Linked DNA regions of Homo sapiens: region 1 is linked to region 2. The links come from fine-mapping of genetic effects on gene expression. Tissue or cell type: thyroid. Region 2 holds a variant in brackets; the other region holds the start of a gene. All regions are shown on one strand. Distances are between the middles of the regions.

Region 1 (2,730 bases), 22 kb before region 2:
ACTAGTATCAGCATCACCTAGGAACTTGCCAGAAATACAAATTATCAGGCCCCACTCCAGATCTACTGAATGAAAAATTCTGGAAGTAGCCAGGTAGTTACTCAGGAGGCTGAGATGGGAGGCTCACATGAGGCCTGAAATTCAAGGCTAACCTGAGATAGGGTGTTGCTCTTTTGCCCAGGCTGAAATGCAGTGGTGTGATCACAGCTCACTGCATTTCCGTGTATTTCAGAGCTCACTGCAGCCTCAAACTCCTGGGCTCAAGTGGTCTTCCTGCCTCAACCTCCCAGGTAGCTGGGGTCACAGGGATGGACCACCACACTGGGCTAATTTAAAAAAATTGTTAGCAACAGGGTCTTACCATATTGCCCAGGCTGGCCTCAAGCGATCCTCCTACCTCAGCCTCCCAAAGTACTGGGATTACAGGTGTGCAGCACCACATCTGGCTTAATTTTTTTTTTTTTTTTTGAGACAGGGTCTCATTCTGTCGCCCAGGCTGGAGTGCAGTGGAGGGATCTCGGCTCACTGCAACCTCCGCCTCCTGGGTTCAAGCAACTCCTGCCTCAGCCTCCCGAGTAGCTGGGATTACAGGTGCCCGCCGCCATGCCCGGCTAATTGTTGTATTTTTTGGTAGAGACAAGGTTTTATCATGTTGGCCAGGCTGGTATCCAACTTCAGACCTCAAGTGATCCGCCTGCCTCAGCTTTCCAAAGTGCTGGGATTATAGGCATGAGCCACTATGCCCAGCCAGAGACTCCATCTTTAAAACAAAAACAAAAACTCAGGGTGTGGTACCCACCAACCTGGCTTACCCAGCCTTTTAGGTGAGTCTAATGCATGCTCAAATTTGAAAACCACTGGGTTAAACGTCTGGTCTGGAGTTCATCAAAAAGTCATGGCCTGAATCCTTACCTGTAAGGCATCAGAATGCAAATGAAAATTAACTTAATGAATATTTTACTTGAGCCGGGCACACTTCCCACAACAGTATAGGATGGCTGTCCTTGTCCTGTTTTGTAGAGGACGGTGCTAAGCAGCCTATTCATTCTCACAAGGTCTCCAGGAAACCACACTTTTTTAAGGAGTAGAATTTTGGGGTAGGGCCGGGCGCAGTGGCTCACGCCTGTAATCCCAGCACTTTGGGAGGCCGAGGCGGGTGGTTCGCCTGAGGTCAGGAGTCGAGACCAGCCTGGCCAACATGATGAAACCCCGTTTCTACTAAAAATACAAAAAATAAATTAGCCAGGCGTGGTGGCGGGAGCCTATAATCCCAGCTACTCGGGAGGCTGAGGCAGGAGAATCGCTTGAATCCGGGGCAGGGGCGCGGAGGTTTCAGTGAGCCGAAATCGCGCCACTTCACACTCCAGCCTGGGAGAAAGAGCGAAACTCCGTCTCAAAAAAATATATATATATATATATTTGGGTAGGAAGCACAAGTAGGGACCGTGCTTGCTGCCAGAACAACCAATAGAAACTCCTTGAAGGCCTTCCTGGCACAAACGTAGTCTCCAGCACCCTCTGCCGACCAGGCCCCGCGCCCTCAGTGCTGAGACAGCCTCCAGCCCTCGGTGCCTTAGGGGTTGCGCGTCACCTTGGAGACCGCGTGAGAGGAGGGCGTGCCTCTGCAAAGGCGGAAGTCGGCTGTGGAAGTGTGGGCGGCCATTTTGAGACCGGGCAAGAGGGGCGGGACTGGTGCGGCCGAGTGACAGTTGACCGGTTTTAACCAAGTGACTGGTACCACGGGGCCGGGGAAAAAGCTGTGCCATCCAGGGGCGGGGGGATGCCGGGGACGGGGAGGAACTAGGAAGGGGAGGGGAAGGGGAAGGCGAGAAGGGGAGAGGCAGGGGAAAGAGGGGAAGAGTCGTGGGAGCTGGGAGAGGAGGGAAAGAGGGGAAGAGTCGTGGGAGCTGGCAGAGGAGGGAAAGGGGGAGCCGAACGTGAAGGGCGAAGGGCGGGGCGGGGCAGGAGAGTCGGGGTATAGAGCAGGCAGGTGTTAATGGCATGGGAAGGAAGAGTAAGAAGTGGGGCAAGAAGGTGTCGCGGTACGAGGGGAAGGTGAGACTCAAGAAGGTGCCGGCTAAGAAGCTGGTGCCGGCGTGGAAGGAGAAGGTGTGGGGCGAGGAAACAACGAAGGGCGAGGAAAGATCCCGAGGCGAAGAGACAGTTTTCATCGAGAAGGGGCAGGGCGAGGAGGAGGGGCGTTACCAGAGGGCGGGACGGGGCGACGGGCCCGCGCGGGAAGAACCAATCGCCGAGAACCCGGGGAAGGAACGGGTCCATAAAGACCAAGTGGAGGAGTAGGGGCGCGGTCAGGAGCGGAAGCAGAGTGAGGAGCAAGCCCCGGGCGAGAAACGGGGGCCCGGCCGGGAGCAAGAGCAGGGGCGGGGCCGGGAGCAAGAGCAGGGGCGGGGCCCGGAGACGGGCGAGACCAGGTACAGTACCCAGCCCCTGGGCAGACCCCGAGCGAGGAGAAAGCGGCGATACCAAGAGAAGTGCGAGGGTGGGGCAAGAGGTTGGGGCACAGCCGGGTGGAAGTACACGGGTGCGATCGCAGGCAGAAGCAGTACGGGGGAACTTAAGAGGGGGACTGTCAAAGCGAGAAATAGAAACCAAGACCAGGTGAAGAGCAAGAGTGGAATACAGGGAGGGGGCGGAATAAGGAGCAAGGTGAGGATAAAGTTAAAGGAAGAGACGTGGAGGCGGCGGGGCGGAACGAGGCGGAGGAGCAGG
Region 2 (3,011 bases):
TTGGCTTGATGGGCTGCCAGACAGGAGGGAGAGGGCCTGAACATGAACCCGACCTTGCTCTGCAGATGGCCAGGTGTCCTTTGAGATGCTGCCCAGGCAGTGGTCTGTGTGCGAGCAGATAGGAGGTACTCATTACCCCGATGGGTCTGCGGTGGGAGGCTGGGGGAACTGAGGATGCAGAAGAGCAGGGGAGGGTGGCAGGGGTCATGGGAAAGAATGGGCAGTGTCTTAGGGAGGGGTGAGTTATGGGGAGGGGTACAGCTGGCACAGGACCAAGGCTATTGAGCCCTGGGGCGGCTCTGGACTGCCCCTTTCCCTCTCAGTTACCACCTGCTCCATAATTTGGTCTGAATACATCGCGGGTGAGTATACTCTACTGCTGCTGGTGGAGAGTGGATATGGTAATGCAAGTAAACGTTTCCAGGTGGTCAGCTACAACACAGGTAATGAGGGTGATGCAAGGGGCTGGGCACAAAGGGGCAGGATCCCAGACTGTGGACTGCATGCCCATCCTGAGGGATCTGTGCCCAGCAGACAGAGGGAGGGCAACATTACCTGTGTCACTCCTGGTTGAGGAGTAGCAGTGGAGAACAGGATATAGGCTTGGTGATCTGAAAGGGCCCTGTGGCTCACAATAAAGAGATTTTATTTTACCTGCAGTGAGAATAGGGCCCCTATGTAGATTTGTGCAGGCTGTGCAGTGCACAAAACCCCCAACCGAGGGGTCAGAGGAGACAGGTCCTGTGCCTTAACAGGACTGTTTCCTCTCAGGCAGTGCCTTTTTATAATTCACATGAAGAAATTCTAAAGGGCTAGGCAAGGGGCTCACACCTGTAATCCCAGCACTTTGGGAGGCCAAGGCCAGAGGATCCCTTGAGGCCAGGAGTTCAAGACCAGCCTGGGGCAACATGGCAAGAGGCTGTCTCTACAAATTAAAAAAAAAAAAAAAAAAAAAGTAGCTGAGTATGGAGTCGCACCTGTAGTCCCAGCTACTTGGAATATACCTGAGGTGGGAGGATAGCATAAGCCCAGGAGGTTGAGGCTACAGTGAGCTATGATCATGCTACTACCTGGGTGACAGAGCAAGACCCGGTCTCAAAAAAAAAAAAAGAGCAGAGCCAGGCGTGGTGGCTCGTGCTTATAATCCTGGCACTTTGGGACACCAAGGTGGGTGGAATGCTTGAGCTCAGGCGTTCAAGACCAGCCTAGGCAATATAGCGAAACCTCATCTCTACTAAAAATACAAAAATTGGCCGGGCACGGCGGCTCACGCCTGTAATCCCAGCACTCTGGGAGGCCGAGGCGGGGGGATCACCTAAGGTCAGGAGTTCAAGACCAGCCTGACTAACATGGTGAAACCCTGTCTCTACTAAAAATACAAAAATTAGTCGGGCATGATGGTGGGTACCTATAAACCCAGCAACTCAGGAGGCTGAGGTGGAAGAATCACTTGAACCTGGGAGGCAGAGGTTGCAGTGAGCTGAGATCATGCCATTGCACTGCAGCCTGGGCAACAGAGCGAGACTCCATCTCGAAAAAAAAAAAAATTAGCTGGGCATGGTGGTGGTGTGCGCCTATAATCCCAGCTACTCCATAGGCTGAGGTGGGAGGATCACTTGAACCGAGGAGGCAGAAGTTGCAGTGAGCTGAGATCACACCACTGCACTCCAGCCTGGGCGACAGGGAGATCCTGTCTCAGGGGGGAAATAAAAGAAAAGAAACTCTAAGGACTAGCAAACCCGAGTGGGAAGCTCTTTGGAGGGTTTTACAGGAGGCTGAGAAGCAAACAACTTGCTCCAGCT[C/G]CAGGTTTTGAAAGTGCAGGGCCTCAGGAGATTTTGCTGTGTTCTCCCCACCTGTAGCTAGTGATGACCTGGAACTTCTCTACCACATCCCAGAATTCATCCCTGAAGGTAGGAAGGGAAGGCAGACGTGGCCTCAGGGTGGCTGTGGGCCAGGAGGGGCCCAGGTGACTCCACTTCACTGCTGTGTCCTCTCTTCCTCTGCTCCGGTCAGCTCGAGGATTGGAGTTCCTGATGATCCTAGGGACAGAGTCCTACACCAGCACTGCAATGGCCCCCAAGGGCATCTTCTGTAACCCGTACAACAATCTGATCTTCATCTGGGGCAACTTCCTCCTGCAGAGGTGGGCCTCTACCACCCCTGGGTGGGCCAGGCATACTCTGTCTCCCCAGCAACTTTACGGTGGGGACCCTTTCAAGCCCAGGCTAGGCAAGTCTCACCAAGCCTTCAAAGGATGCACAAATCCAGAAGTTACCAGGACTGTGATGAGGAACACACCGTTAGGGTAGTCAGTGCTGGGATGGGGGAAGCCAATGTTTTAAAGCTGTGGGAGCCCTTTTCTTAAAATGAAACCTTATATAAAGACCCAGCCTGTGTGAGCAATAGATGAGCAGTTTCTAGGGTTTTTTTTTGTTTTTGTTTTTGTTTTGGGACAGAGTCTCACTCTGTCACCCAGGCTACAGGACAGTGGCAAAATCTCGGCTCACTGCAGCCCCCGCCTCCCAGATTCAAGCGATTCTCCTGCATCAGACTCCCGAGTAGCTGGGATTACAGCTGCATGCCACCATGCCTGGCTAATTTTTGTATTTTTAGTAGAGACGCGGTTTCACCATGTTGGGCAGGCTGGTCTCAAACTCTTGACCTCAGGTGATCCTCCTGCCTCAGCCTCCGAGAGTGCTGGGATTACAGGTGTGAACCACCATGCCCGGCTAATTGACAAACATTTTCTAGGGACAGTTTAGGATCCTCCCCACCCCAGCCACCCTCTCGACCCTCAGGAACCTAGGGGCCCCTGAGCCACCTTCTTGGGTGGCTGGCAAACTGCCAGGTTGGCCCAATGCTCCTGTTTTACAGATGGGGAGCTGAAGATTCTCAAAGGGTTTGGGGTGGGGGGCGGGAGCTAGGATTTCAAGCTTCCTTTGCATGTTCTTACAAGTGGAGAAACAGTAAGTGGCTCCCGTGTTATTAGGCCTGGGATTGGGGGAAGCGGC

The links. PIP is the estimated chance that this variant, and not a neighbour inherited with it, causes the effect. A credible set is the group of variants that fine-mapping cannot tell apart.
Region 1: CATSPERG starts here. The variant in region 2 is the best candidate, but not a certain one, in a credible set for the expression of CATSPERG in thyroid (GTEx, PIP 0.69).

The regions. Positions count from the first base shown.
Region 1 is chr19:38,334,142-38,336,871 of GRCh38, forward strand. CATSPERG (catsper channel auxiliary subunit gamma) reads left to right here and starts at 1,689. Exons shown (of 29, transcript NM_021185.5): 1 at 1,689-1,734. RefSeq lists enhancers at 1,428-1,722, 1,527-1,736 and silencers at 1,857-1,936, 2,307-2,476.
Region 2 is chr19:38,356,419-38,359,429 of GRCh38, forward strand. It overlaps CATSPERG (catsper channel auxiliary subunit gamma), which reads left to right. Exons shown (of 29, transcript NM_021185.5): 10 at 66-125; 11 at 324-443; 12 at 1,860-1,910; 13 at 2,014-2,143. Among named protein-coding and RNA genes, the nearest start is that of PSMD8, 17 kb to the right of the region's middle. The variant C/G (reference allele first, on the strand shown) is at 1,803.